Linked DNA regions of Homo sapiens. The protein of the gene in region 2 purifies or fractionates together with the protein of the main gene of each other region. This does not show direct contact. Each region holds a gene or a part of one and is shown on either strand. Other genes may lie near its edges.

Region 1 (2,762 bases), on a different chromosome or scaffold from region 2:
CTTCCAGGTGCCTCTTCTGACCATAGCCAAGAGACTGGAGACACAGACCTCCTCCCAGCACTGAGGACAAACAGCCATGGGGCCAGTGGGGGTGCAGGGACACCCACACCACTAAGGGCTCAGGGCGGCGCCTTCAGAGCCTGAACCTTCCTCTCATGCTGCCATTTGAACACCACAACACCCTAATAGGAAACTGTTAACATTGCCACTGTTCAGGTGTGGAAACCGAGACAGACAGTGGAGATTCCCTGCCCTAGGTGACACAGGTAATAAGTGACAGATGTGGAAATTTAAAGGTACTATAACGTCTGTCTGCCTGACTCAGGCTTAAGGCTCCCATCACCTCCTCTTCTCAGGACAGAGTCAGGAGGCCTCAGCCTGAGCCCCAGCTCTAGTGCAGGTTCATGTGGGAATACTGAGCCTCACTAGTACAATGGCAGAGAGGACCAAATGGGACCAGGTGTGTAAGGGTGCCTGGCACAGTTGGGGGAGGCTGCTGTCACTTCTCCACCGCTGCTGCTGCAGTTACCTTTGATGTTTTAGTTTTGTTGTAGTTACACCATTGCTGGCTTTGGATCTGCACTGTGTCCACTCCAGGTGGAACCACGCACACAAGCCTCTCTGTCGGGCCTGTCCTGACTTCTCCTTGTCAGGGCTGGGATCTCCTTCAAATCTGGCGGAAGTGGTTCTCCAAGTCTGGTCCTCAAACGTCAGCAGCATCAGCGCCTAGAAGTGTTAGGAATACACATTCCCAGGCCCCACCACAGACCTCCTGCCTCAGAAACTCAGGGCGCTGAGGCTCTAGGGGCTGCTTTAACAAGACTTCCAGGTTATCGTGACGCACCTTGAAAGTCTGAGAGCTACTGCCCTACAGAAAGTTACTAGTGCCCTAAAGCTGGCGCTGGCACTGATGTTACTGCTGCTGTTGGAGTACAACTTCCCTATAGAAAACAACTGCCAGCACCTTAAGACCACTCACACCTTCAGAGTGGCCTTGAGAAAGATTTGGGGTCAAGGATCATGAGCGAGAACACCACTTAAGAGGATAGTGAACTAGTCTGCATGTGAGACGCTGAGATCCTATGTCAGGCTGTGATAGGAGGGAAACAGAAACCAAAGGAAAGAACAGCTTTAAGAAGCGCTTAAGAGGTACAAAGTAAAATGATGGTGCTAGAAAAGTAGCTTCTTAAAAAGAGCATTTTCCAGTCTCACCCTGGACTAACTGAATGAGAATCTCAGGAGTGTGAGGCCCAGGTATCCATGGTCTTAAAATGCCACCCACCAGGTGATTCCCAGTGTGCACCAGGGGTGAGAGTCACAGCCTTAGGCCATGCCACTCAAAGGGTGTCTTCAGACCAGCAGCACCCACAGCTCTGGGAGTGCATCAGAAAGACAGAGGCTTGGCACCACCCACACCTACTGAACCATAGTTTGCAGGTGATTTCTTGCACATTAAAGTGTGGGAAATGGAAAAGCTTAGAGTTCAGCTAGCTCGGTGACTCTCAGTCAACCTGCACCTGCTCCATGAACTCAGACTGCCTGGGATGGGCCCAGAAAAGCTCCTGAGGAGATTCTGATGTAAGGCAGGGCTGATAACCATGGATCTCATCTGACCCCATATCACTGGGGAGTTACTTAGGATCTTGCCTGGGGCCAGTCATCTCTTCCATAGACACTGAGAGTGTCCACGATGCTTGGGGCACTACAGGGTGGGAGGTGGAGGATCACGGGTGAGTCAGATAGGAAGCCTGCTCCTGGGGAGCTTACAGTGCTATAGGGCAGCGAGCCAAGGATGCCAATACCTGTGTGCAGGTACCACTGACGAGTGCAGAGCGCTGCAGCACCAGAGAGGAAGCTACCCTGTGCAGAGGGGGCTGAGGAGGGCTGCAGGGAGATGACAGGAAAGCCGGTGTTACAGGAGGAGTCCTCCCCACTCTTTGGGCATGAGGAGACCAGGAGGACATTCTACAGTGAGAAACCCAGGCAGAGGCCATGTGCTTATGGCATGGGAAAAGAATGACACCTTAGACTTATTCTCTACATTAGAATTGCCTACCACAGATACCCATATTATAGCTTCACATAGTGTGGTGGTTACTGTGTTTTCATATTGTCACATTTGCCATTTTCCAGCCACCCACCCATTCTTGACAGTCACTGGCCCAGCCTGGGGGCCCCTGTTCTTTATCAAACAAGTGCCTGAGCTCTTTGCAGAGGTGAGGGTCACCTGTCCAATCAGAGGCCAGGAGGGAACGTTCCCTTTTAAGACCCTACTCTAGGCAGGCCTGGCCCAAATGAGTTGCTAGGAGCCCACGCCCTAAGAACCCTCTGAGCACTGTTGTGGCTGGTCCTGCTGCTAGAAGTTGTTCCTCCAGGGCCAGGTGCAAGATTTGTGGCTTTTCAAAGGAGCCACTAAAGCTCCAGCTCAGCCTTGCACCGTGCTGGGCTCCTGGGGGCTTCCTGCCTCCAACCCTCCCAACTCTTCCATCACCGCTCCCTTAGCCTGGCCAGTGCAGGGATCTGTTCCACTCTAGGCACTGCTGAGGGAATGATGCCTCCAGTCAGAGGGTGCAAAAAAGAGAGTTAAGAAAAACAATGATTATAAAAAGTCCTTTTTATACGCCAGACATTTTCTTTGCTCAGGCTAAGTGCTACTTATTTGAGTAAGCATTTTAGTTCTCATAACTCCTCTCTCAAGTAGGTGCTGCTATTACTTTCATTTCACAGATGAGGACATTGAGGTTTGGAGAGACTTAGTAACT
Region 2 (3,653 bases):
CCTCCCCGCCAGCTGTTCAGCCCCATCATTCCTCAGGCCTCAGCTTCAAGGTCCGGTCAGCATGCTGTGTGCGCTCACAAGCTTCTAGCTTTTTTCTCTTGTACAGTGCTTCCCACAGCTGGAATCAACACATGCTTAATGCCACTGTTTGCTGTCTTTCCCTCTAAATGGGAAGCCCCCTGAGGACCAGTACCTCATTTGTGGTGTTCACTGTGGTGCCCCCAATGCCTGGCTTCTAGTGGGTGCTGGACAGATGTCTCTAGAACAATGGAATGCATTGGTTTGAGGACAGCGCAGTTAACTCACAGCCCTGAGTGGGGAGCAGGGCCAGAATGTGGGGCTGGATGGCATCCCAGTTCCTCCTGCGTTCAGGCCTCACTGGGTGGTTCCATTATGTACTTCACTGAGCTGTGACCTGCCCAAACACCCAGCCCCCACACCCGTCCATTTTCCCACCCAGAGCCTGGGAGGAACGGTTTTTGGATTATTTCACATTTCTGGATTATCCATGAGACATCTCCCCGCCAGTGAGAAGGATCAAGAGTTTGACATTTTAAACCCTAAGCAGTTTCTCCCTGGCCTGCTTCAGATCTGAGGCTCTGCTGGTTGCAATGAGACGCATGGGGAATGGAAGGCCATTTTAATCTTGGCCTGGCTTCATCAGGAAGGAAAAGATGCTGCCAAAAAAAAAAAAAAAGTTTGCTTCATTGTCTCTGCCATGCAGAGCTGCGAGAGCCTAAGGGATTATCAAAGTAAATTTCCTTGAAAAGATGGGGAAACTGAGGCCCAGAGAGGGGCAAAAGCTTGGTCAAGGGCATGTGGGAAGTTGGTGGCCAATCTGGGAATGGTCCTCCCGGAGGCCTCCGGACTCCTGCATGCTGCCCTTTGTCACCTTCAGGCACCAGGGGAGCTGGGGTCTGGCAGAGAGGGGGCAACAAGTTTCCACTGACATGACTTCAGGACCCTGAGTCACCCTGGCCTTGAATGGCCTCCCAGAGCACGGATGGGACTTTCCAGGAGCCCAGCTACTCCTCCAGGAAGAGAAACTCCCAGGAAGCTTCAGTGGCAGCAGAGGTGAAGGGTGAGGGACGCAGGCATGCCCCCAGTCTGCCCCATCACCAACCACCACATCTGGGCCAATTTTGTGACAGATCTGTTGTCCAAAAGTGGGGCCAGTGGCGGCTGTATTTCGGGAGCAGGCTGTTCTTCAAGAAGATGGCTCCTTCAACCTTGTTCCCTTTGATCATTTTGGGGGCATTTTCTGTCTTTTATTTTCCTTTTTTAAAACACCAAATCTTGAGAATACTAAAACTGACTCCAACTAATGAGGTCACAGTACCTGATAAAAACAGTATCAAAACATTTAACACTCTTTAACTGAACTCTCAGAAAAGTCTTTGGCTTCAGGAAAGGGACTGGCTTTTCTAGGGTCAAAATACCTTTGCCTGAAGATAGCCTCACTGGCTGCAGGTTTGCAGGGACAGTGGGACCCCAGCACCCCTTCTCCACTTCTGGGTCCCTACCCCACATGCTCCTGGCCACACCTAGCCTATCTCAGACCAAAGATGTTGGAAAATAGCCTTTGGGGGTACCTTGGGAGGCCAAGAGAGGACATTTTGGACCATCCTGTGAAGCCCTTGCAGAGTGTGTGACCACGCCACACTGGCCACTCTTGGCCTGGCCCTCACCAGGCTGCCTCTTAGAATCAGTGAAGCTCCCAGGGAAATGGGGGTGCCAGCAGGGCTGGTCCTCTGGATAGGCCCTGGGTAGACGACCGTCCAACCTGCTTCTCCCTTCACCTGTCTCACACAGGGCGATACAAATGCCCACCCTTATCAGCGTATTTCCTGGGAAATACTCACTTCCTGCCCAAGACATAGCATGAACAAATAATTGAAAGCTTAATAAACCAAACTACAGGGCCCCATCCAGTGTGTAGTCCTCTGGCCATTTCAATTCACAAGACCCCCCCGAACGTTCAAGCCCCCTGCTGAGTTCCCAGCCCAAGCACCCCATCTCCTCCTGAGACTGTCCGCAACAGCGAATCCTGAATCCCTACACCCTGCTCTCAGTCCCCAGCCTTGCCCTTAAATCCTGCATTTGCTTCCTGCACTCCATACCTCTGTCCTTGCCTAAGCTCTGATGTCCTCTTCCCACCCCCAGGCCTCTGCCCACTGCGCCCACATCCCCAGACTCACCCAGGAACAAAACCTCGCGGTCCAGTCGGCACTTCAGTTGGCACTACAGGGATGTGACGGTGAATGTGTCCTCGGGGTGAGGTTCCGCCATGGGCCCCAGGAAGCCGCTCTTGGGGCCCCCACCCAGGCCAGGATGCGCCTGGGGCATAAAGCCTGGGTACCTGTAGGCGGTGTCCTGCAGGGGCAGCAGCGAGTCCCTCGGCACGGGGGACAGGGTCAAGTCACTAAGGAGTGGGCAGCCATAGCCAGCAGCGGCTGCAGCAGGGCCACGGGGTGGGCCAGGGGGCCGGGCCATTTCCAGTGGCTCCTTGTCGGCCTTGGGCGTGGCTGGTGGGCTAGCCAGGTGAGGGGCACTGAGGCACGCGGCCTCCGTCCTGCCCAGGAAGTCAGCCAGCAGCCCTGTACCCACCTTGCCTTCATAGGGCGGGCTGCGGGCAGCTGAGCCTGGAGGGTACCAATAGGCTGTGCCCTTGCAGCTGGGGGAATCGTAGTGGGGCTGGCCCAGCGGCAGGTCCCGGCAGCTCAGGTGGGCCTGGGCTGCAGCTGCGTGGCCCAGGCTGGCCCCCTGGAGTCCATGCTTGAGGGGCTCGCAGGCAGCCAGCTTTGTGGGCGGTGGCCGCAGCTCTTCCTTGAAGCCCAGTGTAGGCGAGCAGGTGGGCGAGTATGCCTTCTGCAGGCCGGCGTCAAACACCGTGGGTGGGTGGGCCAGCGGTGGGAAATGCTTGCCATCAAGCTCGGGAGCACCCAGGCTGGGCGAGTCGCAGTGGAAGCCTTGGCCAAAGGTGCCATCGGAAGGCGTGGACGGGTTCATGGAGTAGGGTCCTATGAAGTCACAGGGGTCTCGCTCTCCCACGCCGAAGGCCCTCGACTGTGAGGGCAGTGGTGACATGCTGCTGTCCCCGCTATAGTAGTCCAGGCCGAGGTCAGGACTGTCCTGGAACAGTGGGTTGACTGGCTGTGGCTTGGGGATGAACTTGGCTTTGGCCGCTGCGCCACCCCGCTCCTTCTTGGCTGAGCAGGCCCCACCGCCCCGTCCACCTCGCGGCTGCCGGGGCCCAGTGCTCCGTTTGGATGGGTAGCCTGAGGCAGCGGCAGAGGCGGATGTCGGGAAGCCCAGATGTGAGGCCTCGAACAGGTCCACCTTCTTCCGCCGTCCACGGCCCGGCTTGGAGCTACTCTGAAAGAGGACACTCTGGTTCCAGTTGTAGCCGGGGGCAGATGATGCCTCGTTCCAGTCCATCATCAGTTTCTCCAGGCTGGACAGGCTCGACTGGCCCTCACTACTTGAGGCCTCGCTGTTGGCACGCCGAAACCCCCCGCCACCAACCGGCTGATTGAACTGGGTGCTGTCGGAGGATGACTCAGAGAAGGTCTCCGACACAGCCGTCTGCTGCTTCACCTTCTGCGGTGTGTAGTTGGAGATGTCCAGGATCACGTTGGGCTCGCTGACGTGGC
Region 3 (3,653 bases), on a different chromosome or scaffold from region 2:
CACAGTAGTGTTTTTATACAATATTTTACATCTGTGTGAGCCATTCATACTCAGGTTTGCATATTCTTAACAAGCTCAGTGACACTTAAAATATTTAGGCAACTGAACATCTGCAACTATCTTAAATAAACCCAGGTGACTTACAGTTATGTAGAAACATAAAGGTGTCATCTAGATTTTGCGTATCTTAAGTTTTAAAAAATATGTGGAGTCACTGGTCTTTTAGGAAGATTTTCAGACTACAAGACTGGTGCCCACAACTGGAAAACTGCTACTGTGTTGCTGCTTATCCTGATACTTTCCGTATTCAGATTTCAGGCAAGAATTCTAGCAGTGACCACCAGAATTTCCAGTACACCAGTAGAACCAGTTGTTTTCAGGCTGAACTCCTCTAAGAGTTTAAGATATGTATACAAACAGAGGGAAGATGATGCCTGAGGGACAAGGTGAAAGCTGGGCAGCCAGAGGTCTGGCCCCCCGACCCTTCATCAATTTAAGAGTTCACCTAAAATTGTATTTGAAAGCGGGGGAAGATGCCTCGGTACTTAAACAAGAAAAACAGACTGAGGATACTTTATAATATACCAATTTAGATTTAGGGAGAGTGTGAGGTGAGGAGCACTTCCCAGTTTACTTCACTCTAAACAGGTATTGCAGCAAGGCAGGGACACAGCATAAAGAGTGATTCTAGCACTCCACTGCCTACATAAGAACTCCACAGGCATACAGCCACTTGCTGTCGCTGTAAGTGGACAATCTGGCTTAAGATCAATGTGAAAAAGGGAAATAATTCACAAGTAGCCCTTAAGGGGTGCTTTAGGGGAAAACTCTCAAACTTTGTTTTTCCTCTGCCCTCACACCACACAGAAGTCGTGAAGTTGTCTTCTGTGACCAAACGTGTAGGGTTTTTTCCCAAGCAGCGGACACCAGCTGAGTATCCTCTAATTTGGTTCTGACACTGTCTACCTGGATACAGTGTCATATTCCACAAGATGGGGGCTCAGTCCCCAAAACTGCTCTCTCCTTCTTCAGACTCCAACTGTAAGTCTGGGCCTCCAGAACTTCTGACTGACACTTCAAGCTGGGGTTCCCAAGACCCCCTCCTTGAGTTCTATTAATTTGCTGGAGCATCTCACAAAACTTGGGGAAACACTTATGTTTACCGGTTTATTATAAAAAGTACAGATAAAGAAATGCGTAAGGGCACTGGGCTTCCATACCCTCTCTGGGGGCGCCACCCTCCAGGTGTGTTCAACTATCTGGAAGCTCTCTGAACCCAGTCCTCCTGCGTTTTTTTTTTTTTTTTTTAAAGACAGAATCTCACTCTGTCCCCCAGGCTGGAGTGCAGTGGTGCAATCTCGCCTCACTGTAACCTCTGCCTCCCGGGTTTGAGCAATTCTCCAGCCTCAGCCTCCTGAGTAGCTGGGATTATAGGCCCCCACCACTAAACCCAGCTAATTTTTTTTGTATTTTTAGTAGAGATGGGGTTTCACCACGATGGCCAGGCTGGTCTCAAACTCCTAAACTTGTGATTTGCTCGCCCCCAGCCTCCCAAAATGCTGGGATTACAGGCGTGAGCCACCGCGCCTGGCCCTCCTGGGTTTTTATAAAAGCTTCATATAGGAAACCTTACTTCCCTTCCCCGGGGTATAGGGCCAACACCCTCTCTCTAGAGAGGATCTCAAGACCTACAATCAGAAAGCTGGGTAAAGATCAGAATCTTGCCTTGGGACACGTGTAAGGAGAGCAGGAGAAGATCAGAGATTATTTTCTGAGACCTAACGTACCCTATATTATAACAAAACACGGTAATGGGGTTATGGGTGTTATGAGCCAGGAACCGTGGTGGATGAAAACCAGTATGTATCACAACACCACAAGAGGACACGCAGATATGTCCATTTATAAATTATTTCAGAAGCATGCCAAGTCTTTGTATCTAAATGACATAAAACGTTATTTTGATCCCCTAATAATACATTTTTATGCTCTACCGAAACTACTCAGAAATAATTTCCCACAATAGGAAATATATTTCTTTCACTATTCTTGAGTAACAGAATATTTAAACTATGTTCTCAAGTTTTTCGAAGCCATTTCCCAGGATCAAGGCTTCACCGAAGGTAGCTTTTCAAAAGCGTTCTTGTACCAGGTTTTGCCACTTGATGGCTCAAGTTTTCACACTTTCCTCAGAGAAGTTTTATTTGCATTTTTTTTGGTTGCTGTTTTTTATTTTTATTTTTTTTTGAGACTGAGTCTCACTCTGTCACCCAGGCTAGAGTGCAGTGGTGCCATCTTGGCTCACTGCAACCTCCGCCTCCCAGGTTCAAGTGATTCTCCTGCCTCAGCCTCCCAAGTAGCTGAGACTACATGTGAGTGCCACCACACCAGGATAACTTTTGTATTTTTAGTAGAGATGGGGTTTCACCATGTTGGCCAGGCTGGTCTTGAACTCCTGACCTCAGGTGACCCGCCAGCCTTGGCTTCCCAAAGTGCTGGGATTACAGATGTAAGCCACCGCACCCATCCTCTTGTTGCTGTTTTTAAGTGTAACTGATCTTGAAGCAGGATTCTGAGCACTTCTTGCATTTGGATACTCCCAGTCTCAGCTCACTTCTTTCACAAGAGCAAGGATTCTGTCAACCTAAATTTATAATTCGAATTGAAAATTTTAATAAATTCCACCATATTTCCACTAGACAGGAGTTTCTCAAAAGAGACCACTCAAAAGGTTCTCAGGTCATGAGCTTCCACCAGAAGAGCAGAGCTTTACAGATTGTCAACTGAAGCACAGGTTTCCACAAGCTCTTAAATGGAGCATGAAGGATTCAGAAAAAGAAAGGGTAAAAGCCAGCAATTATCTAAGAAAAAAGTAACTGCTCAGGACAGACTGACTGTCTTAAACTAAAAAACTGGGAAAAGAAAAGGGAACATAAACAACGTTTCTTTTTAGATTCTTATACAGTTAACTTCCCAGCAGAAATATGCTACTCCAATTAACTGCCACCTGCACAATTTACACCCATACTCTCCCTGCTGGGGGTGTGGCTAGCTTCTTTACATGTAGACGCCATTGGAATCCTTGGGTTTAAGCTCACATGGAAGCATAAAACCTCACTGTGAAATGGGAAGCATTCATGTGAGCCCCCATTAGCCAAACAGCTTACAAGAGCACCATAAAGGCCTGTGTTGCAAGCACAGGCCTGGGAACCAGCCCAGACATACTCTGTGGCTCATTTCATCATTGTATGTGGTAGTGCCTTGATTTCCCTACTTGTGAAACAAGGATAGTCCTGAGAAAATTGGGAATAGTTTATAAAGTGCTTGGAAAATAAAACAGACAAGCCACCAATACTATAATACCATAAAGGCCAGCAAGGGGGCCTTTACACTTAAGCAGCACATCCTTATTAAAGTCATCACAGTCACATGAGAAGTGACATATAAACACAACCCACAGCTAAGTGACTCAATTACAAATCTATACCCTTACTGAAGAGGGTATTAGGATATGCAGATTCATTTTTAATTCTAACAGCTGGTCAAATAATGCATGACTCTTTTAGATTACGTGTATGCTTTTAAATTAAATCTTTAACTTAAATCTAAAACTGTGGCATATATTCAGAGCAGGCTTCCCTTTGTAAACTCCA

The links.
Region 1: the proteins of AHDC1 (region 2) and IL37 purify together in Homo sapiens (affinity purification with mass spectrometry; one large-scale study listed by BioGRID and IntAct). This does not show direct contact.
Region 3: the proteins of AHDC1 (region 2) and ADNP purify together in Homo sapiens (affinity purification with mass spectrometry, with the first as the bait; one large-scale study listed by BioGRID). This does not show direct contact.

What each region holds. Positions count from the first base shown.
Region 1 is NC_000002.12:112,914,111-112,916,872, forward strand, and holds part of IL37 (interleukin-37), read left to right. Parts: intron 1-1,082; coding exon of another isoform or gene 1,083-1,149; intron 1,150-2,762. UniProt on the Homo sapiens protein: Immune regulatory cytokine that acts as a suppressor of innate inflammatory and immune responses involved in curbing excessive inflammation.
Region 2 is NC_000001.11:27,545,063-27,548,715, forward strand, and holds part of AHDC1 (transcription factor Gibbin), read right to left. Parts: coding exon 2,242-3,653; 3' UTR 2,199-2,241; intron 260-2,198; exon of another isoform or gene 194-259; intron 1-193. UniProt on the Homo sapiens protein: Transcription factor required for the proper patterning of the epidermis, which plays a key role in early epithelial morphogenesis. Directly binds promoter and enhancer regions and acts by maintaining local enhancer-promoter chromatin architecture.
Region 3 is NC_000020.11:50,921,289-50,924,941, forward strand, and holds part of ADNP (activity-dependent neuroprotector homeobox protein), read right to left. Parts: intron 1-3,653.